2 separate regions of the Homo sapiens genome follow, and region 1 is linked to region 2. Evidence: fine-mapped expression QTL. A gene starts in region 2. The other region holds a variant in brackets. All regions are shown on one strand. Distances are between the middles of the regions. Region 1 holds the start of MELTF-AS1 (MELTF antisense RNA 1). Region 2 holds the start of MELTF (melanotransferrin).

What was found. PIP is the estimated chance that this variant, and not a neighbour inherited with it, causes the effect.
Region 1: its variant is fine-mapped to the expression of MELTF in nasal epithelium (TOPMed, PIP above 0.99).

The regions. Positions count from the first base shown.
Region 1 is chr3:196,997,194-197,008,322 of GRCh38, reverse strand. MELTF (melanotransferrin) reads left to right here. Exons shown (of 16, transcript NM_005929.6): 14 at 1,587-1,774; 15 at 4,224-4,422; 16 at 4,872-6,583. The coding sequence ends at 4,951. It overlaps MELTF-AS1 (MELTF antisense RNA 1), which reads right to left and starts at 5,417. Exons shown (of 4, transcript NR_038285.1): 1 at 5,350-5,417; 2 at 4,353-4,721; 3 at 3,964-4,226; 4 at 3,579-3,829. It also overlaps the pseudogene RPSAP30. RefSeq lists silencers at 4,459-4,858, 4,899-5,688, 5,839-5,918. The variant A/G (reference allele first, on the strand shown) is at 6,113.
Region 2 is chr3:197,023,068-197,034,196 of GRCh38, reverse strand. It overlaps MELTF (melanotransferrin), which reads left to right and starts at 4,380. Exons shown (of 16, transcript NM_005929.6): 1 at 4,380-4,543; 2 at 6,287-6,441; 3 at 7,438-7,537; 4 at 9,712-9,894; 5 at 11,084-11,129. The coding sequence starts at 4,495. RefSeq lists enhancers at 2,365-2,659, 1,764-2,963, 3,351-3,987, 3,988-4,624 and silencers at 4,158-4,647, 4,698-4,747, 4,938-5,117.

The DNA.
Region 1 (11,129 bases), 26 kb after region 2:
GGCATGAGCCTCTCCACAGGGTCATGAGTTCAATCAGTATCTGGTCTGTGTTCCTGAGCAGGTCACTGCCTCATGCAAGGAAATCTCTCTGCAGCCCCCAAGCCACACCGAGGCAGGGCACGCCCAACATACCACACAGGGGGTTTTCTTCCTGGAGTCACCTTCCTGGGCTCCGCCTGGGACAAAGAGCTCAGGAACGCTCTGCTCCGGGACCCCAGTACATACATGGTCCTATCAGAGCACACGCTCCCCTGACTTATATCACTTCCCCTTCTTCTTGTTCTCCGTGAAGGAATCTGTGTCCGTTTTGAAGACTAGAGGCTGTTTTCCTCCAACACCAAAGGCTTGTACTGTCTGCATACCCTGCCTACACCCCAGGCTTTGAAACCCCAAATGCTGGAGGCCCAGTCTTCTCCACTCGCTCCCAACATGTCTCCTCCTATAGACTTAGCCCAGAAAGGCACAACTGTGGCCCGGTGGGGAGGGGACTGGACAATGGGAAGCAAGACGTGCAGGGAAAAAAACGAAAACCTCAGTTAGTGTTTCAAAACTTGGATCTTGCCTCCTATGGGGGTCACCAAGGCGGTAGGACCATTTGCCCCAGCAGAGCTAGGGAGGGCTCCAGGCCCTGAACCCTTCCTGTTGCCACAGCCCAGCTCCCCCACCCAGCCTCCTACCAAGAACACCTGAAACCCTCCCCCAGGGAGGGGCTGTGTGCTCCTGCACGAGCCCAGCGGGCCTGCCTGGTCCCAGATCTGTGCATGGTGTCGTCTGGGATGGGGTCAGGGGAGGCGGGCAGGTGCTGGAGAGGCCTTGGGAGGTTCACTTGCAGTGAGTCACCCGCCTCCCAGGGCCACTCCTTTCCCTTTTATCTTTAGCTCTCCTCAAGGCCCACCTGGATTTCCTGGAAATGGGAGGAGGATGGATACTAAGTGAATGCACAGAGACATGAAAATGTGATTCCTGAGGGCAGCATTTTCTCAGGCAGCCCGAGACCGCCTGCTTTAGAATCAGTGGGATGCTGGTTTAACATGCAGATTCTTGAGCCTGATCTGAGACCTCCTGAATAAGATTCTTTGCAAGCAAGGGCCCTTGAAGCTGCCTTCTGCATCCACAAGTGATGCTATACCCTGTTCCATTTGAGAACTTCAGCCCTTAGGGACAATCACCCACCACCTTCAGGGAGCCACCCCACACTCAGGCTTGAGGATGTAACACATAGATGGGGTTCTCTGCCTGGGAGTGATTAACAGCCTCAGTTTCCTCACCTGTAAAATGGGGACAAAAACACCTACCCTGCGTTACTGTTGTGGGGATCAAGCAACGCGTGTAAAGTACTTGTCACATAGTAGGTACTCCCTACTCCCTGCTAATTAATGGCAGCTCCTGCTAATGGCATGAACACAGCTGGGTTCTTTCACCCCGGTAACACAGCAGAGCACGTGGAGAATGGAGAGGGTTGGGGAGCTGGCCAGATGTTGCCACCTCCCTGTGGTGAAGGCCTTGGGGTCCCAGGATAGCAGCTTCTCTTTACACTTCTCTCCACTCCCGGAACGTCCCCACACACACTGCTTTACCCCCCTCAGGCCACAATTCCGAGCCCTGGGCTGCTGAGCTCAGGTCAGAGGACTATGAACTGCTGTGCCCCAACGGGGCCCGAGCCGAGGTGTCCCAGTTTGCAGCCTGCAACCTGGCACAGATACCACCCCACGCCGTGATGGTCCGGCCCGACACCAACATCTTCACCGTGTATGGACTGCTGGACAAGGCCCAGGTGAGCCAGGGTGGGGCTACCTCATTGAGGGGTGTGCAGCAGAGGTAAGCTGAGCCCCTGGGAGGCCTCAGTCTACCTGGAGCAGACCTCTAGAGAAATTGAGGAAGCCCGGGGGAAATTCTGTGATTTTCACTTACGCAAGGACATCCCTCCAGAAACTGTCCCCTCTGCCTCCTGCATCGTTGATTTTCCCTTCTCAGTCGGACCATTTTCACCAACATGAAACATGCTGTGACTTCTGCCATCCTTAAAGAACAAACTAACCTCTTGGTCTCACATCCATCCTCTTGCAGCTGTAATCCTGCTCCCTTTTTTTCTTTTTTTTTTGAGACGGAGTCTTACTCTGTCGCCCCAGGCTGGAGTGCAGTGGCACTATCTCGGCTCACTGCAAGCTCCGCCTCCCGGGTTCACGCCATTCTCCCACCTCAGCCTCCTGAGTAGCTGGGACTACAGGCACCCGCCACCATGCCTGGCTAATTTTTTCTATTTTTTAGTAGAGAAGGGGTTTCACCGTGTTAGCCAGGATGGTCTCGATCTCCTGACCTCGTGATCCGCCCACCTCGGCCTCCCAAAGTGCTGGGATTACAGGCATGAGCCACTGTGCCCGGCCAATCCTGCTCCCTTTCGAAGCAAAACTCCTCCAAAGAGTGGTCTGCTCTGGAGTTAACAAGTCCTCTCCTCTGGCCTCTCTTAAGGATGGAGACTGAGTTAGCAAGTCCTCTCCTCTGGCCCCTCTTAAGGATGGAGACTACCCCAGACAGGCTCCCACCAGGGCCCTGAAGCTGTTCTTGTCAAGGTCACAGTGACCCATGTTGCTAAACCCAGTGGCCATTTCTCAGTCTTCATTTTACTTGACCTCTCAGTGGCACTGGCCACAGCTCTCCCTCCTCCTGGAAACACCTTCCCCTGCAGATGCCCAGGTCCTCAGCCCTGCCTGGCTGTCCTCTCACTCTCTGGCCACTCCTCAGTCTTCTCTGCTGATTTCCTCCCCATCTCCCTGACCTGTTAGCCCTAGGATTCAGTTCTCAGCCCTCTTCCCTGTCTACAGCTTACCCTTGATCTCATCCAATCCCATGTCATCAAATACCATCTATATACAGATGGCTTCTAAATTTACATCTTCAGACATCAGTCCCAAACTTGCATATTTAACTACATACTTGACATTTTGACTTGTGTTTCTAACAGTCATCTCAAATGGATCAAGTCCAAAGTTGGACCCCCGTCCCTCCTTCAGTCTTCCCCACTTCAATTAAGAGCAACTTTAGCTTTTCCATTTCCTCGGGAGTCATTTTTGACTCCGGTCTTCCTCTCGTGCTCTACAGCCAATCTATCAGCAGATCCCATTGGTTGTGCTTTCAAAATATACCTAGAATTTAAACCCAGGTTGTCTCACAATGGAGCCACTGGTTTCTAACCACTCCCCCTCCCCCGACTTATGCTGAAATTGCCTTCTCCACACCCACCAGCACCACAGAACTGCAGAGCTGGCTGGCTCGCCAGGCCTGTTCCTAAACTTTGACATTGTGAACTGACGCATGTTCCTTCCTGTCATCTTCCCCACAGAACCCCTCTATCCCAGGAGTGCTTTACTCTGGGTCCCTGGGCTTCCCTAGGGGGTTGCTAAGTCCTCTGAAGTAATGTGGGAGAAGAATCCTGGGTGGATGTGCATTTTTCTGGGGAGAAGGCTGACAGCTTTCATCAGATCTTCAGGAGGATCTGCGAGTCCCTCCAAAAAGACTGAGAGCCACCTGACTCCTTCGTTCCTCCTTGATCAGTACTTAACACTTTACATAGACATTCATGCATGTTCTCCAGATGTCCTTTATTTATATTCGTATTCATAAGTTCTCATACTACTTCTGGTCTTTTTAGTAGCTCTTTTAGGGCTGTAGCCACAGAACGGTCATTCTAGTGATTCTGAGCAGGGTGGAGAGGAGTGCAGCATCCCTGGGCGGGTGGGTCAGTGAAGACACGCCCAGCTCACCTGATATTCTGTGACTGGTTGCAGAACACAAGTCCCTCTCGAAATTGTTTAGGTTTGTGGGGAGATATCTGTAAGACAGAGTGAGAAAGCCTTATGGAAAAGGCCAAGAAGTGCTCAGCAGGCCTAGCAGAACGCTCAGGAATCCCACCCACACCATCCCTCATTTCTGGGTCTTTCTTCCTGGACATCTCAGGCCTCAGACCTGCATCCAGGAGCTGGAGCACCGCAGTGCTTCTGAACGCCTCTTCCAGTGGCACCTGCGGGCCTAGTGTCCCCACACCCGCTTGGGTGACAGAGGCCAATCAGTTGTCAAGCTTATGACTTCCAATCAGAGTGGTGGGGCCCTGAAATGACTTGCTCTTTGGGTCACTGTATGTAAAGCAATTTGCAGCTAGCGGCACTGGGCGGGTGACCCTGCCTGAGCCCAGTGAGGAGCAGGTCGTCTGCCTGCGGTGCTTCCAGGACCTGTTTGGAGACGACCACAATAAGAACGGGTTCAAAATGTTCGACTCCTCCAACTATCATGGCCAAGACCTGCTTTTCAAGGATGCCACCGTCCGGGCGGTGCCTGTCGGAGAGAAAACCACCTACCGCGGCTGGCTGGGGCTGGACTACGTGGCGGCGCTGGAAGGGATGTCGTCTCAGCAGTGCTCGGGCGCAGGTAGGACAGGCCCGCCCTGCCGCCTCCCCTGGTGCTATTCAGACCCCTTCACCCCAGAACCCTGAGGGAGCGGGGGGCGCTGCGGGTCCGGGGAGGCGGGTGGAGGCCCGTTCGCAGCAGTCCAGGTGGGGTGTCCCGGGAGGATTTTGGCCAGGAGGCTGCGGGCCGGGAGGGCGGGAGCCCGGCGGGTCTCCCAGACGGACCTGGGTAATGAGTGTGAACGCTCAAAACGGCGGCGCGGGGAGGATCTGGGGCCACGGCAGAGACATGCGTGTGCTGCCTTTCTGGAAAGAGCGCATCTGGAAGGGCAGCAGGGGAAAGGAGCACAAAGAGGGAGGCTGCGGCGAGTTCGGTCCCGAAAGATGCCCCCACCCCCACCCCAGAGCGGGCGCCTGAGGCGGCCACCGCGGCCCGGGCTTCGGGGCCTGACCCGCCGCGTTCGTCCCCAGCGGCCCCGGCGCCCGGGGCGCCCCTGCTCCCGCTGCTGCTGCCCGCCCTCGCCGCCCGCCTGCTCCCGCCCGCCCTCTGAGCCCGGCCGCCCCGCCCCAGAGCTCCGATGCCCGCCCGGGGAGTTTCCGCGGCGGCTTCGCGCTGGAATCCAGAAGGAAGCTCGCGAAGGCCGGGCCCGGCGTGGGCGGGAGCAGGCGCCTCCCCGGGAGCCCCGCCGCCCACGGGCGCCACCTGGCGCTGCTACCTGAGGCGCCGCCCCCGGGCCCGCGCGGCCCTTCCCGCCAACCGCCGCCTCCCGCCACCTGGAGCCGCGCGGGCCGCGCCGGAGGAGGCCGGTTGCCCAGGAAACCGCTGAGTCCGGGCTTCCCGCCGCCCGCCCCGCGGTGTCGCCCGAGGGGCCCGCCCGCCTCCTCCCCGCAGCCCCGCGCCCCCGTCCGCGAGGCCCCCTGGGGACGCGGTGGCCGCCGAGGCGCCTACACCCGCAGGCCGCGGCCAGGCCGTCCCAGGAGGCCCCGGCGCCAACGGGACCCGGCGCGTGGGACAGCGGCCTCTGCTGGCGGCGGCGGGAGGGAGGCCGGACCGGGGCGACGGGGAGAAGCCTTCGCCCGCGGGACCGTGTCCGGGGTGGGGGCTCCAGTTCCTCCGACCGCCCGTGCGCTGGGAGGGAGGCCGAGCCCGGGGAACGCCGCGTGCCCTGCCTCGTCCCCCACTGTGGCCGCGCCAGCTCCATCCCGGGCCAGCCGCGTCCACGGGCCCCCTCCCGAGTCTCCTCAGGCTCTCGCCTCCCCTACCCCCGTGGGATGCCCACCGCCCGCACCCACGCCCGAGCCTGGCGGCAGCAGCCGCCCCCCGCCTGAAGGGAGCCGGAGGTGACCCAGGCCGCGGGCTCCCGAGGCCCCTGAAGGGCTGCGCGTGGGGACCCGCCATGCTTCTGGGTTCCGAACGGGGGTGAGCTCCGTCTCCTCACCCGGCCCCGCACCCGCTGGGCCTGGGGACCCCTCACTCCCCGTGCCCGCCCCTCCGCGAGGCAGCAGAAAGCGCCCGGCCGGGGCCTCTCTCTACTCCATCTTGCCACAGTTGTCTGAGAAGCCAGAAAAAGTTTCCAGAACTGGCAGCCCTTAAAAAAAATGAAGAGGAAGAGAAGAAATGGGAGCAGGCAGCCCTCGTCAGCAGACCGGGAGCCGCGTGGGCGCGGAGCCATTTGCATTCCGGTCTGCGGGGGCTCGGGGATGCTGGTGAC[A/G]GGCCCGGTTCCCGGTGGCTCGCCCCCACCTGCGGGCGTCGGGAAGGATCCCTTCCATCTCTCAGCCGCAGAGGAGGCCCTGGCAGCGCCCCGGCTGTAGCCATGCAACCCCGAGGAGTCCCGGGCACCTTCACCCCACCGGGAGGGGCCACAAGGACCTGGGCCTCGGCCACCAAGCTTTGTCCCCTCTCGCTGTGGGGGGCTAGTGATTCTCCTCCGACCTGACGATTGCTTGGTTTTTTCAAAAGGGAGTTTTGTGCGGTGAGAAGTGTGTTTCTGTGTGGCTAACTCTGGGCTAGCGTGCCGTGGCCATTGAAGGTGTGGCCTGCGTGGGTGCAGTGTAAGTGACGCTGGATTGTCAGGTGGCAGCAGGGGACCCCTGCTGTGTCAGTGCTAATGAAACATGTTGGTTGGTTTCTAAAATAAAGCCAAACAAGCCAGCACATGCAGAGGCTTGGACCCTGATAGAAACTTCTGCTGCCGATTTCTTTCGTTTTGTTAGGCACTCAAAGGCCTACCTGCTCCACCGAGAAGGGCAGATTCCATTCTCCAAGAGCCAGTCAGGGACCACTCTCATCCTCTAGTCAGTGAGGCCCCCCGCGCCCTTCTTCGACCTGGACTGGTTCTCTGGCTCTTGCAGGGCCTCCGCTGCCCTGGCACATTCCAGCTGCCTCCACCCCATCAGGCTCTGGGGTGTCTGCCCTTCTGTGGATGGGTGCAGAGAAGGGTGCAAACTTCTCTGCTGCCCCCTGCCCCACACCTCCAAAATAAGCGGCCCACATCTTTTCTCTGGCAAGCTCGCTGCTAACTCACTGGAGGGGGGCGTGGGGAGCGGATCTCCCAGAGACCCTACAGTGGGTGCTCTGTGGTATCTACTGAGGTGGGGGTGGGCCCGGCTGGTCTTCATCAGTGCTCTGCTCTCCCTCTGGAAGGGGAGGTTTTCTCTGCTTCCCTCTCTCATGGCTTCACTTGGCCCCCACACCACCACCCCTCGCCGCTGTGGCCATCTCCCAGAGCCAGGTCTTGCCCACCACTGCACACAGGCCATTTTCCATGAAGTCGGCTCAGTTATCACAAAGCCAGTCAATTCCTGGGGACCTGGATGGCCAGAGTTGACCGACTTTGTCTCTGCATCACATGGACGAGTCTCAGCTGCACAGTCACTCCAGCTCGCCTCATGCTACCACTTCCCTACCCTGAACTTCTGGAAAGGAAAGTTAACCTTTGGGCACCCTAGCCCCTCATCTGAAAAACACACAGTACGATCACCAGCTTGGTGAGGTGGTTGTGAAGATCCAGTCTAAGATGCAAAACACTCAGCACAGTGCTTGGCACACGGCATAGAGACTAAGACACAAAACACTGCACAGTGCTTGGCACACGGCATAGAGTCTAAGACACAAAACACTCAGCACAGTGCTTGGCACACGGCATAGAGTCTAAGACACAAAACACTCAGCACAGTGCTTGGCACACGGCATAGAGTCTAAGACACAAAACACTCAGCACAGTGCTTGGCACACGGCATAGAGTCTAAGACACAAAACACTCAGCACAGTGCTTGGCACATGGCATAGAGTCTAAGACACAAAACACTCAGCACAGTGCTTGGCACACGGTGGGTGCAGGAAGGATGTTCACTGTCACTACTGCTATTACTCCAGAGCCTGTTTTCTTGTCTTCAATTTGGAATTCCTGGGAGAGATCATCTGATTGGCCCAGTGTGCGTCAGGCATCTACCACTGGACCAGTCAGCACAGGCCAGAAGCAGGGTGTATAGCGGACACATGGCCACCGAGGCCCCAGAAAAAGGAAATGAAATCCTTGTGAGTCAGGCAGCCATGCCCCAGCACCCCCATGGCTACCAGGCCTGTTGTAGGGCTATTGGCCATTTGTTGAGCAAATACTTACTGATACCTACTTGTCAGTACCACCCCTAGACCTAGGCAAGAGGGATTCTAGTCCTCGGTTTTGTGCTTTCAAGCAGTGCTTTTCAGACCTTGATGTGCACATTAACTGCCTGGGGATCTTGTTAAAATGTAGACTCTGGTTCAGAAGGGCCAGCATGAGACTGAGAGTCTGCAGTTCAGACCAGCTCCCAGGTGGTGCCTGTGCTGGTGGTCCAGGGACCACACTTTGAGAAGCAAGCCTTCAGAGGCCTCCCCCAGACCACACCCCACACCCCACCCACAGAGGGAGCAATCACAGGGAAAAGGGATGCGTTCACTCAGGGGTCATCTTTTCTTTTTTTGAAACGGAGTCTTGCTCTGTTGCCCAAGCTGGAGTTCAGTGGCACAATCTTAGCTCACTGCAACCTCCGCCTTCCGGGTTCAAGTGATTCTCCTGCCTCAGCCTCTCAAGTAGCTGGAAATACAAGCGCCCACCACCACACATGGCTACTCTTTGTATTTTTCATAGAGATGGGGTTTCACCATGTTGGCCAGGATGGTCTCGAACTCCTGACCTCGTGATCCGCCCACCTCGGCCTCCCAAAGGCCTCCCAAAGGGATTACAGGCATGAGCCACCGCACCTGGCCCCAGAGCCCATTTTTCACACCATGTTCCAGATACCTGGGATCCTGGACTTTATACCTCAAACAGCCCTGAGCCAGCTTCCAGGGTCTGGAGGGCCCCTTACCTAGATCCTGCCTCCCAAGGTGGCCAAAGCTCTCGCAGGAGGTGTAGTTGAGCGTGATGAGCAGGCTGCCGTGTCCTCTGCAATGCGCAAGGCCCTCGAAGCGTGGGTTGCAGCCTGGATGGGAAGAGAGCGGGTGGGCTATGGCGGGGAAGCCTGTTCTGTCCGCAGCTCCTATTCTAGGCTGCTGAGTCTTTATAAAGGTTTGTTTGTCAAAGTAGGAGGACAGGACACATTCTCTTTAATAGCTTGTTAGCTTGATTTGTAACATTTAATGTGGAGCCACATGGTAGGCGGGCCTCTGTTGGTACTCTTGTCCTAGGCCCCACAAGTGCTTGGGGTCGGCCAGCCTGCTGTGTGCACAGCCCTGTGCTCAGCGCTCTGGAAGGTACAAAGAAGTAAGTACACGGCCTACTAGCCCTGCCCCCCTTGGTCTCATTTGGAGAGGCCACCGAGGTGGTGTGGTAGAAGAACACTGCTGTGCAGGAGGGACAGTGACAGGATAGACAGGGCCTTGTGGCCCACACGGCACAAGCCGTCACCCCCAGCTTCAGACTCCTCCCCAGGTGTTCTTGACTGTTTACAATGAGGATGTGTTCCTCAGGACAACATTCTTGAAAAAGATTCACACAACATTTACAATAGGTATAAATGCTACAATTTTTTAAAAAGATATATTAATTAGGCTGGGTGTGGTGGCTCACCGCTGTCAACCCAGCCCTTTGGGAGGCTGAGGTGGAAGAATCGCTTGAGCCCAGGAATTTAAGACCAGTCTGGGCAACATAGTGAGACCCCATCTCTACAAACAATTTTTAAAAAAATTAGCCCAGTGTGGTGGCCCACACCTGTACCTCCAGCTACTTGGGAGGCTGAGGTGGGAGGATCACTTGTGCCTGGGAGGTGGAGGTTCCGGTGAGCCGTGATGGTGCCACTGCACTCCAGACCAGACCCTGCCTCAAAAAAAAAGATATTCCAATTTTGTGGAATAAAAACCAGCTCACTCACCTAAGATTCAGGAAACTTGAATTCTCATTCCACTTTGGTATTCACCCTGGGCCAATACTTTCTCCTCTCCCCATCTCAGTTCCCAAATCTATAAACTGAGAAGCGGGTATGGGGCCTCGACGATTTCTAGCTCTAACAGTAATTCTTAGACTAAAACACATCTGAGTCTTCACGGGGTTGTTGCCTGTGCTGAAGTGAGAGGGGCCGGGTGGGCTCTTTTTGTTTCTGCCTTTCTCAGCTGCCTCTGCGTTGGTGCTAACAAGCCAGAAGCTGGGTTTCACAGCGGAGAGTCATATACGTCAAAGCTTCTCGCCTTGAGCGTATGTGAGGATCACCTGAGGGTTTATTAAAACATAGACTGCGAAGCTGGGTGCAATGGTGTATGCCTGTAGTCCCAGCTACTTGGAGGTTGAGGCAGGAGGATTGCTTGAGCCCAGGAGTTGAGGCCAGCCTGGGCAACATAGTGAGACTCCCATCTCTAAAAATGTATATATTGGCCAGGCATGGTGGTTCACGCCTGTAATCCCAGAACTTTGGGAAGCTGAGATGTGAGGATTGCTTGAGGCCAGTAGTTCAAGACCAGCCTGGGCAACATAGGCCCAACCTCTACACACACACACACACACACACACAGACACAAAAGTGTTTTTAATTAGCCAGGCGTGGTGGTGTTTGCCTGTGATCCCAGCTACTCGGGAGGCTGACAGGGGAGGATTGGTTGGGCCCAGGAGTTTGAGATTGCAGTGAGCTCTGAGCTATGATTGCACCATTGCACCCCAGCCTGGCAGGTTCTCAGGTGGTCTGATGCTGCCGGTCAAGCCACCTCACTTTGAAGAACACTGTTCAGGGCAATGTGAGCTCACACCCCATGAGCGCATTAACAGGTGCCTGCCCCAAGGTGTCCAGGGCTTGGGTGGGAAGGGTGAGTGGTTCCCCCTAACCAGGGAACTTCATGGAGGAAGTTGGGCCCAGCCTGGAAGACAAGCCAGGTCTGTGTCCGTGGCCCCCGTGGGCTCCATGTGGAGGGGTGGAATGTGCGGGAAGGTGCCTCAGCGCCTGGCCCGGGTCTCCGAGCACGCAGGCTGTCGGTAGAATGGCATTCTGACTTCACCCTTTCCCAGCATGCGGCTCCCCCGTCCCTCTGGCCCTGCACTCCCCACCCTCACAATTCCGAGCAGGGCCCTCGAGAACAGGAGAGAACTCAGAGATCAGCATGTGAAGGTGGTGCGTGGTCGGAATACCCCCCTTCCTCCTTCCTAGCTTCTGATGTCCCTGGAAACCTCCAACTCTACAGAAAAAACAAATGTTATCTGCTCTACTGAAGTCAGTCTTTGGGTCGCTGGAGGTTGAAGAGAAGGGCCTGGTGGTTTACCGGGC
Region 2 (11,129 bases):
CATCCCATCCCGTCAGCAGGAGAGTAACATCCTCTGACATCACACCACTGCAGGTGCTCACACCCCAACCAGCCAGCAAGAGCGTAACATCCTCTGACATCACACTACTGCAGGTGCTCATGTCCCAACCAGTCAGCAAGAGTGTAACATCCTCTGACATCACACTACTGCAGGTACTCACCCCAACCAGTCAGCAAGAGTGTAACATCCTCTGACATCACACGACTGCAGGTGCTCACACCCAACCAGTCAGCAAGAGTGTAACATGCTCTGACATCACACTACTGCAGGTGCTCACACCACAACCAGTCAGCAAGAGTGTAAAATCTTCTGACATCACACGACTGCAGGTGCTCACACCCAACCAGTCAGCAAGAGTGTAACATCCTCTGACATCACACTACTGCAGGTGCTCACACAGTAACCAGTCAGCAAGAGAGTAACATCCTCTGACATCACACTACTGCAGATGCTCACACCCCAACCAGTTGGCAAGAGTGTAACATCCTCTGACATCACACTACTGCAGATGCTCACACCCCAACCAGTTGGCAAGAGTGTAACATCCTCTGACATCACACTACTGCAGGTGCTCACACCCAAACCAGTCAGCAAGAGAGTAACATCCTCTGACATCACACTACTGCAGGTGCTCACACGCCAACCCGTCAGCAAGAGTGTAACATCCTCTGACATCACACTACTGCAGGTGCTCACACCCAAACCAGTCAGCAAGAGTGTAACATCCTCTGACATCACACTACTGCAGGTGCTCACACCCCAACCAGTCAGCAAGAGTGTAACATCCTGTGACATCACACTACTGCAGGTGCTAACGTCCCAACCAGTCAGCAAGAGCGTAACATCCTGTGACATCACACTACTGCAGATGCTCACACCCCAACCCATCAGCAAGAGTGTAACATCCTCTGACATCACACTACTGCAGGTGCTCACACCCCAACAAGTCAGCAAGAGGGTAACATCCTCTGACATCACACTACTGCAGATGCTGACACCCCAACCCGTCAGCAAGAGTGTAACATCCTCTGACATCACACTACAGCAGGTGCTCACACAGTAACCAGTCAGCAAGAGTGTAACATCCTCTGACATCACACTACTGCAGGTGCTCACACCCCAACCAGTCAGCAAGAGTGTAAAATCTTCTGACATCACACGACTGCAGGTGCTCACACCCCAACCAGTCAGCAAGAGAGGTAACATCCTCTGACATCACACTACTGCAGGTGCTCACACCCCAACCAGTCAGCAAGAGTGTAAAATCTTCTGACATCACACTACTTCAGGTGCTCACACCCAACCCATCAGCAAGAGTGTAACATCCTCTGACATCACACTACTGCAGGTGCTCATGTCCCAACCAGTCAGCAAGAGTGTAACATCCTCTGACATCACACTACTGCAGGTGCTGACACCCCAACCAGTCAGCAAGAGTGTAAAATCTTCTGACATCACACGACTGCAGGTGCTCACACCCCAACCCATCAGCAAGAGTGTAACATCCTCTGACATCACACTACTTCAGGTGCTCACACCCCAACAAGTCAGCAAGAGGGTAACATCCTCTGACATCACACTACTGCAGGTGCTCACACCACAACCAGTCAGCAAGAGTGTAAAATCTTCTGACATCACACGACTGCAGGTGCTGACACCCCAACCAGTCAGCAAGAGCGTAACATCCTCTGACATCACACTACTGCAGGTGCTCACACCCAAACTTTCTCAGGGCACACCAGCCTTCCAAGGGTTCCCCAGAATAAAAACTATTTGGCTTGTTCTTAAAGACATTGCGGGCCATAGAAATAGACAGACAGAAATTATGATTTGTTGAAAAATATTTTTTCCTAAGTACAATATTTTACTTCGTTTTGGGTAAAGGATTTCACCCTTTGCTGGCTCATTAGCCACTACCTGCTGATGGACCTTCTCAGTCTCCTGTCAAAGGCCCCCACTTTCTGAGGCTGCCTGTAGTGTATTCCCTCCATGGGATGTACTGTTCCTCGATTCCCTGACAAGCAAGCTCAATGCTTCTGGGCACTCTGAATCCTTGGAGAGCCAGAGCTGTGTCTTTGGCAAGAGTGGAGAAGAGCTCTTTTTATTTCATATTATGGGGTAGGGTCAGGGAGACTCAGGCAGAGCTGCTTAGGCCCCAGAATCTGATCGAAGTGTCAGTGAAACCAGTTCCTTTAGTCTGTATGCTCTCCCTCTAATCTCAATATGAGTCTAGAATGGGGACCAAACTAACCTCAGCTTCTGCTCCTCCAGAAGGCTGTTTGTGGGTTAAACTACTGGCTTATTACTCTCTCATTACATCCCACCCATTTCTCTGGCACACCCAAGTATGTCCGGACCCCAGAAATGGCAGAATCCTGGCTCAAGCTGAGGCAGACTTCCCCATTCCACAAAGGTGATGCGCGTTCATGCCAACCCTGGGCCAACGGGCCCGATGTAGAATCCCTGAGAACCCAGAGGCAGCAAGTTCACTGATGAGTCACAGCTGAATGACACCCAAGAGATAAGGGAAGAACTTCATTGTGAAAGAGCCCAGCAAACCTCTTAGGTTATGGTTGTTCTCACTCCCTATCAGCGTCACGTGGAGTTTTGCCAAAGGAAGGACTTAGTCATCAAACAGATCCTGCCAGTCATCTGGTGGCTCCTGGAGTGTGCCAACTGAGCCTTTCTATCCTCGTGGTCAGGAGAACGAGGCTTGTTAAGGACTCTTCTATTTATTCCATCTTCTTAGGACAAGCCATCAGCCCCTCTAGCAAGGCTGCCTGCTAGTCCATTCGGCACCTTTGTGCAAACTAGGAAGAAGGGATCCATCTGGGGGGATGGAGAAACAGCTTCCACAGCACAAGTCCTCCAGAGCAGACAGGAGACGGAAAGTATGGCACGTCACGGCCATCATGACCTACCTTTTACATGTGGGGAACAAGCCCAGAGAGGGCGACGAACTCGCCCAGGGTCTGTAAGTCGCTGGTTTTTAAAAAGTAGAGCTCGAGTCTCCTGAAGCCCAGCCCATGTTCCTTCCCCTGATCCAGTGTGTGATAAGCAGTAGCTTCATGGCCCCATAGGAGGGAGGCCTTCCTTCCCCAGGGCGCAGAGCAAGCTCAAGGACAGACAAACTCAGAGGGATGTCTTCTCTCTCACTGTTGTACTTACCCATGTCAGAGAGAGACATCATTTCTGAGTCTCAGAGGGGCTGATGACATAAAGGTGAGGCCTAAATGGAGGCAGGTGACTAACAATGTCTTCAGTTCATTCCCCGCATCCCCAACCACATGGGGAGTGCCGCTTTTGCCCGCCTGCGACAGTGGTTCTCAACATTTGCTGTGCCCCGAAATAAAAACAGATTGTGGGCCCCGCCCCCAGAGCTGTCGATCCAGTGGGTCGGAGGTGGGGCCTGAGCACTTGCATTTCCAGCAAGTTCCAGGGTGATGCTCACGTTGCTGGCCTAGGGACCACACTGAGAACCACTGTCCTAGAAATACGGTCAACCCACCCTTTCCTCCCTCACCTTCTTCACTCTCTTCCTCCCCTTCTCCGCCTGTTTCTCCTTTTCCGCTTCCTCCAATTCCTCTCTGGTCCTCTTCTCACCTTCCAATCAGCTGGCTCTGCCACTGACTGGATGCCTGACTCGGGCAAGTCACCTCCCGTCTCTAGGCCCGAGGAGAGGCAGTCGGCTAGGCCGAGATGCCCCTGCCCGGCTCCCCCCTCGCCAGGGCGCTCGGCCTGGGCTCCCCCGTATCCCAGATCCTCTGTGCAGCTGTGGCCGAGATGCCCCTGCCCGGCTCCCCCCTCGCCAGGGCGCTCGGCCTGGGCTCCCCCGTATCCCAGATCCTCTGTGCAGCTGTGGCCGAGATGCCCCTGCCCGGCTCCCCCCTCGCCAGGGCGCTCGGCCTGGGCTCCCCCGTATCCCAGATCCTCTGTGCAGCTGTGGCCGAGATGCCCCTGCCCGGCTCCCCCCTCGCCAGGGCGCTCGGCCTGGGCTCCCCCGTATCCCAGATCCTCTGTGCAGCTGTGCTGGGAGGGAGCTGCTGCGTGAATGAGATCATCCTCCAGCTGCCCTCCAGCCCCGACTCTGGGATTCTGACCTCTCCTTCCTTCCACGTCTGAGCTTTTCTCTCTCCAGTTAGACACGGTATCTGGAGTCTTTCTAGGGCGCGAGGAGGGGAGGATACCCTGGAACGCGGGGTAGGAGGCTGAGGCGAGAGCCCCGAGCAGCGGCGCCCGGGCCCGAGCGGGAGGCCTCCAGCAGGGGGCGCGCCGGGGCCGCCCAGGGGCGGGGTCCGGGGTCGGCGGGAGGTGACCTGCGCCCCAGGGGCGTGGATTCCGCCCGGGAACTCGCGGCCGCACTTAAGGAGCTCGGGCCAGCGCGAGGGGGAGCAGGGAGGAAGCCCGGCTGCTGCGGACCTCCTCGGACCCGGACCCAGCCCCAGCCCGGCCCCAGCCAGCCCCGACGGCGCCATGCGGGGTCCGAGCGGGGCTCTGTGGCTGCTCCTGGCTCTGCGCACCGGTGAGGCCCCGCTGTGAGAGCCAAAGGCGGGCGGGGGTCCCGGGGCGCCGCGGCCCGGCTGAGCAGGTCCCGGGGCTGGAAATGTGCCTGAGCCTGCGGCTCCGGGGCAGTGAGACGGGGGAGGCAGGGGCTCGGGGTCGAGTGAGGACGGCGGAGGGAACTAGCACTGAAGCGCAGACGGGGAAGTCTGGAAGGCTTCTTGGAGGAGGCGGCCTCGAACACCCGAGGCTTCCGACGCTCCAAGGAGAAGCGCGGGCTGAGGCGTGGTGGGGAGGCCTCGGGGTGTGGAGAGGAGCTCCCGGAGGGCGGCCCCTCCCGACGGGCGCAGGAACTCAGGAAGACTTTGGGGGCTCGGAGCAGCTCTTTCTCCCGAGCCCCCGCGGGAGAAGATTCAGAGGGACTGACCGGCAGGCGCGGGAGTCCGCCCGGGGGTTTCTGGCACATGCAGGGATGGAGGTGGAGACGGAGGCCGGGTCCCCTCGCGTCGGCGCCCCGGGGAGTCAGGGCCCGGGATGGTGGGACGGGAGGCGGGACCTCGGGGAGCGGCTCGCGGGGATCGCGGGCGGCGACCGCCGAGGGGATGGAGTTCGTGGCACCGCTGTGGCCGCAGGCGACGCACTCATCAATGCAAACGATGAAGCCACCGCCACCCCCGCCCCGTCTGAACTTTGCAGTTTCCCGCCTGGGTGGTGGGGGGCTTGGAGCGCTGCGGAGGGGAGGGCAGTTCGACTTCCCAGGCCTCCGCCAGGAGTGGGGAGGGGAGGGCTGTGGCGGAAGCTTCAGTCTCGGCCCTTGGGCTGGTGGGGCTGCCACGGGAGGGTGACCTGGTTTCGGGCGGAGTCATGCGTTTCCCTCCCTCCTGCACAGGCCTCTGGCAGTGCTGGCTGGGGCAGGGTGAATGGCAGAGGAGCTCAGGCCTGAAAGTCATCGGCCCCAAGGGGCTCCAGCACCCCTTCCTCTGGGCCCCTAGCCTGGGAGCTCTCGGGGACTCTGACCCGGTCAGATCCTGAGGCATAAGCAGAAGTCCACTGAGGATGTGGGTGTCTCAGGCTCTCTACAAGGGGGTTTACTTTCAACACAGAAGGTGGGGTTTTTATCTGCTCTCTCAGAAGATGAAGCAGGCTCAGAGAGGCTTGAACCTACCCTGATGGGTCCTCAGCCTCCCCTCTGTGCCTGCCGTCTTCCCTTGGCAGGGCCTGGCACTGTGCCCACCGAGGGTGGCTTTGCAGCCAGCATCATCGCAGACACTCCCCGAGGGGACAGGGCTCCTGGAGGGCAGCCCACCCACAGCCCCCTCACCTCACTCTCCCGTCCCAGTTCATGAGGAAGGCCCAGGGACACTGCTGGGTGAGGGAACCTACACGAGCACCCTCTTCGGGAGGCCTGGAGAGGGGAAGAAGCTTCCACTTCCAGGGCCTGCCGAGACTCCCTAGCCAGTGCTCCCACCAGGTGGGGGTAGCTGAGAAGCGACCTGTAGACCCTCCCATTCCTCCATAAAGGGCCGGGTTCTGAGCCATTCCATTTGCCAGCAGCCGTGCTCCTGGTCAGAGAGGCCCTGAGCACAGGAATACCAGCCCTTCCCCTGTCTCTGCGCCTAGTGCCTCCCTGTGGGAGGGCAGGGCTGCCCTAGAGGACTGGCTGTCCAGGCGAATGGGCTCACACAGAACTGCTGGAGCCACCCTCCATGGTGGGCCGGGGCTGGGCAGGGCGGGGGAGCCGGGCCTCACGGTCCCCTGCCCGCAGTGCTCGGTGGCATGGAGGTGCGGTGGTGCGCCACCTCGGACCCAGAGCAGCACAAGTGCGGCAACATGAGCGAGGCCTTCCGGGAAGCGGGCATCCAGCCCTCCCTCCTCTGCGTCCGGGGCACCTCCGCCGACCACTGCGTCCAGCTCATCGCGGTGAGTCCTCTCCCTTCCACCCTGCCAGACAAGAGGGCTGTGACTCAGGAGGGAGCACACAACAGCCCCATTCACCAGGAAAGGAGCCGACCTCGCCCTGCCAGGCCCGGCCGATAGGATCTCCCGAGTCTCCCTGGCCACGAGGCCAGCTTGCCTCCCGCCGGGCCCAGGCCAGGAGGTGGGAGCCTCAGGAGGACCCGCTGCTCAGAGGGCGCCAGCAAAGAAAGGCACCTGAGAGGCTTCCCTTCCACAAGGCCCCTGCCAAGGGGGCCCAGATGGTGGCGGCCCCTCAGTGGCCGCAGGCGGTTACTTGCTCATCTTGCCATGGGGCTCTCCAGAATGGGGCTTGTGTGGTTTCTGGGGAAGGAGGAGCAGGGGCTGGACTCCCAGGTGGGTGAGCATGGGGTAGGAGAGCAGGTCTGCTGAGAACTGCTAAATGACACTGACAATCCTCCGAGGCACCACCAGAGAGTGGCGTCCCTCCTGGGTGGGTGCAAAGAAAGCTGGCTTTTCATTCCAGCTCTGCCCCCCATATGCCCCCAAGACCTAATCCAATCACAGGCCCACACTGGGGCCAAGGCTGTGGGTCAGGCTCCATGTGAGGGCAGAAACCCCAAGCACAGACCACCTTAGAGAAAAAAAGCTAGAAAACCTAGGGTAGCAGTAGAGGCGCAGGGTGGAGGGACAGAAAGCGAGGGAGACTCACTTGTCACTGCGCACCGTTTTCTGCTATCTGATTTTTTTACTATGATATCTGAGTCCTGCAAAATCAATGATTAGTATTTTTTTTTTAACATTATTAGGAAAACAAGGTGAATCCCTGGCCTGGGAAAGGGGGAGAGCCCTGGGCTCTGGTTGGGCTCCTGGGACAGATGAGAAGGACAGCACAGCCCTCTGGGGCTTGGGGTGGGGCCCCAGGCCATCTGGTAGGTGTCCCGAGTTCTTTGCTGAGCAGGCCAGCTGGGCCAGGCTTGGCTGAGCCACATTTCCTTGCAGGCCCAGGAGGCTGACGCCATCACTCTGGATGGAGGAGCCATCTATGAGGCGGGAAAGGAGCACGGCCTGAAGCCGGTGGTGGGCGAAGTGTACGATCAAGGTAAGAGGGTGCAGTGGGAGGAGAGAGGACAGCCTGCGCTGGAAGTCAGCTCTCCAGGCTGCCCTTGCTGGGCCTGGCCTGAGCTGGCCATCAGCCCTGTCCACAGAGCAGTCCTGGAGTCCCAGCCAGAAGAACGCCCTAAGGCTCTCTCAAATTCCCCAGGGACAGGAGCTCCAGGGACACAGAGAGCTGCCCCAAGTCTGCTCTTGCCCGCAGGGAGCCCAGCAGCCCCCTAGCCTGTGCCCACTCAGCTCTTACTGCGGGCTGTCCCGGGCCTGGCGTGGTGCCGGGCACGGTGCTGTGTGCGTAACTGCCTTGGGTGAGCAAGGCGTCCTTAATGCCGAGCCACCTGCACTCTCAGGGCCTCCCTTCAGAAGCCCGGCTCCGGGTAGGGAGGTGCTGTCTGGCAGCGGCACAGCTCAGCAGACCCAGCCCTTCCCCTTCCCATGACTTCTGTGACCTTGGCCAACCTCCACTTCCCAGACTGTATAATGGGGATAGTAACACCTGCGCTGTCACCCAGACTAAATGAGCCAGGCCGTGTGCCCACCTGACATGTGGTATGTGCTGGAAAGTGTGAGTTCCTTTGCCCAGTCCCCGCATCACACATGGGACCTGCCTCCAGCTCAGCCAGCTCCTGTGTCTCCCCCGCCACCTCTGCTTGGCCGGTGCCTGGCCTCCATCACAGTCCAGCGCAACTGTCACCTCCTCCAAGGTGCTCCCTGAGCCCCTCCCTCTCTGGAGCAGGGCCTCTCTTGCCCGCACCCACATGGCCTCTGCAAGCCTCTGCCTGCTCAGTCTCGTTAGTCCTCAGAGGAGGGTCCAGTCTTCCCCTGTGTCTACCCTCTGGAACTCCACACAGCATCTCGCTTGGAGAAAGCACTGGCTGGTTCCTTGTTGAATTAATGGCCATCAAATGACACACGGCACAGTCCAACCCTGCACACCCATCAGCCAGAAACAGCTCTGCCTCCGAGGCCCCACGCACCTCTTCCTCTTTAATTAACTCGACACCTCTACTGAGCACCTGCTACCCGCTGGTCATAAGCATGCAGCAGTAAACGAAGAGACCTTCCTGCCCCCACAGAGCAGAGAGTAAATAAACACACCCAAAACAATACAGTGACACATGTTGGGGTGCTGTGAGGAAAAGGGAAGGGCAGGACAGAGAAAACGAGGGTTGCGGGGAAATCCACTGAAATAGAGCAGGCAGGACGGTGCTCTGCAGAGGTGATGGGTAAGCTGAGCCCCGCAACCATCTCAGGCGGTCCAGAGGATTGGTAAGAAACAAGGCGGGTGAGTCAGAGGATGGTACCAGACGGAGCTACTCAGGTTGGCGGGGGCCAGACCCTGGTGTGCAAGAAGTAACACTGGCTTTATGTTCTAGAACTCAACTTCATTCTGATATGGCCTCCCACACCACCGGGCAGTTTGTGCACGCGTGCATGCCTGCGTGTGTGCGCCCGTGCGATGGGAGACCCTCTGGGCATCAGTTCCCACAGCTGAGTCTGTGTTTTGCCTGAGCAGCCCCTTGGAGCCACCTTGGCACAGGGGAACGCTTTGCAAGGCTGCAGAGCCCTGGCCCCACCACACACACCCTGCAGCATTCAGGGTCGTGAGCGACTTGGGGCCACATCGCTAGTTCTCTCTGTCTCTGCCTCTGTCTCACTCTCCTTCAACCCCCTCAGCACCAGGAAATCGCCGCTCCTCATCTGGGGAAGCCCCTCCTCGGCTCCCCTGCTCCTCCCAGACACCCTTCTTCCCATGACCCTGACACCATTCCCCCAAACCCTCCAAGTTCTCCTAGGGGCCTAGGCTCTTGGAAAGCAAGGACTTGCTGGCTTCTGCTTTCTGTCCAGCTAAATAACTCCCCTGATGTGAGCAAATGTGGACCCAGCTAAGCACCAGCTGCTGGGGAAGGAAGAGGGGGAAATCAATGAATACATCAATATCTCAGGATCGTCTCTACCTCAAGAGGCTAGAGGGCAGGGCCTCTTAATACATGCAGATGAAGCCCACTTGCTCTCTTGGTAACGAGAACGCTATGCACACATCCGTGTGTACAGCCGTGCTCCGTGCACACACCTCTCCCACAGCCCGCCCAGGCAGGGTGCTGGTGCAGCCTCTCTCGAGGCCTCTCCCTGCTGCCCTCACCCACTCCCCTCCCCTCCTAGAGGTCGGTACCTCCTATTACGCCGTGGCTGTGGTCAGGAGGAGCTCCCATGTGACCATTGACACCCTGAAAGGCGTGAAGTCCTGCCACACGGGCATCAATCGCACAGTGGGCTGGAACGTGCCCGTGGGCTACCTGGTGGAGAGCGGCCGCCTCTCGGTGATGGGCTGCGATGTACTCAAAGGTGAGGGCTTTGGGCTGGGCAGGAGGGTCCCCAGGCCTCCCCCTCCTTTCCTTGGCCCATGCTCGTCCCTTCACTGGGTAGCCTCCCTCCGGCCTCGCCACCATTCTTCATTCCTGGAAGGCGCAGCAGCCCCCGCCCGCCCCGTGCCTCCCCCGCCTCCACTCTGCCGCCGGCGCCGCCGCTTGACTTCCTGCTTGCTTGGACCCTGTGGGGCGCGATTCTTGCTCACGCATCGTGGTGTCCCACATGGCACAGCCAGGCACAGGCCCAGCCCATGAGTGGGAAGCAGTGAATCTCCCAGGAGTGCTTCCCACCAGTATAGACCGGGCGCAGGTCACTGTGTCTAGAAATGTGTCCTCGGCTTTACAGGACCAGAAATGCTATTTTTTCAGGACCCAAACGAGGTGCCGACTTGCACCCAGAAAGCTCCCAAGTGGCTCATCAGCCCAACCAGCCGTGTAAACCCGCGAGAGCCTGGAAGCCTCACCCTCTCAGCTGGTGGCCAGGTGTGAGTGGCTCACCAGGCACTTGGCATATTTATTAAATATCTACTCCTCTGGGAGGTCACAAAAAAAAAACCAGGAAGAGGGCTTACTCTGGAAAAGCTCAGTCTGGCTGGCGATGAGCGTGGCCCGACTGGCTCAGGTGCCAGCAGCAGGGCCTCCTCGCGCGGCACAGGATAAATACTTGTGGGTTTTGGTGCTGGCAGGGCCGGAAGAACCATGCAGGGCGGCAGACCCTGACCTCGTCCCCCGTGAGGCTGGCCGCCGGGCGTGTGCCTCCCTCCCTGTGCCGTGAGAAGGGTTGTCTACCCATCAGTGATCTTCAATAATTCTTTATTTCCCCTCTGTCATCAGTCACAGTTGGCTGAGCTGGAAATGAAACCCACAGTGAGAAGAGCATCTGGCTGATACTGAGTTATCCCACGTGGTCATTTAGGAGGAAATGTTTAGTTCCCCCGAACCATTTTTAAATGACAGTCGCTCCCAGTGCTGTCTGCTGCCTTGGTGGACCCGGTTTGGGGGTCACTGATCGGGTCCACTCCCCAGCTTTGCTCAGACTGAAGCTGGAAGGTGGAACCATTCTCAGCAGAGTCCAGATGAGAGCCCGGGCCCCCTGCTGACCCTGGGGGCTTGGCTTGGCTCTGAAGAAAGTTCTGCTGAGTGACCTCTCTACCTCCTTCCCACAGCTGTCAGCGACTATTTTGGGGGCAGCTGCGTCCCGGGGGCAGGAGA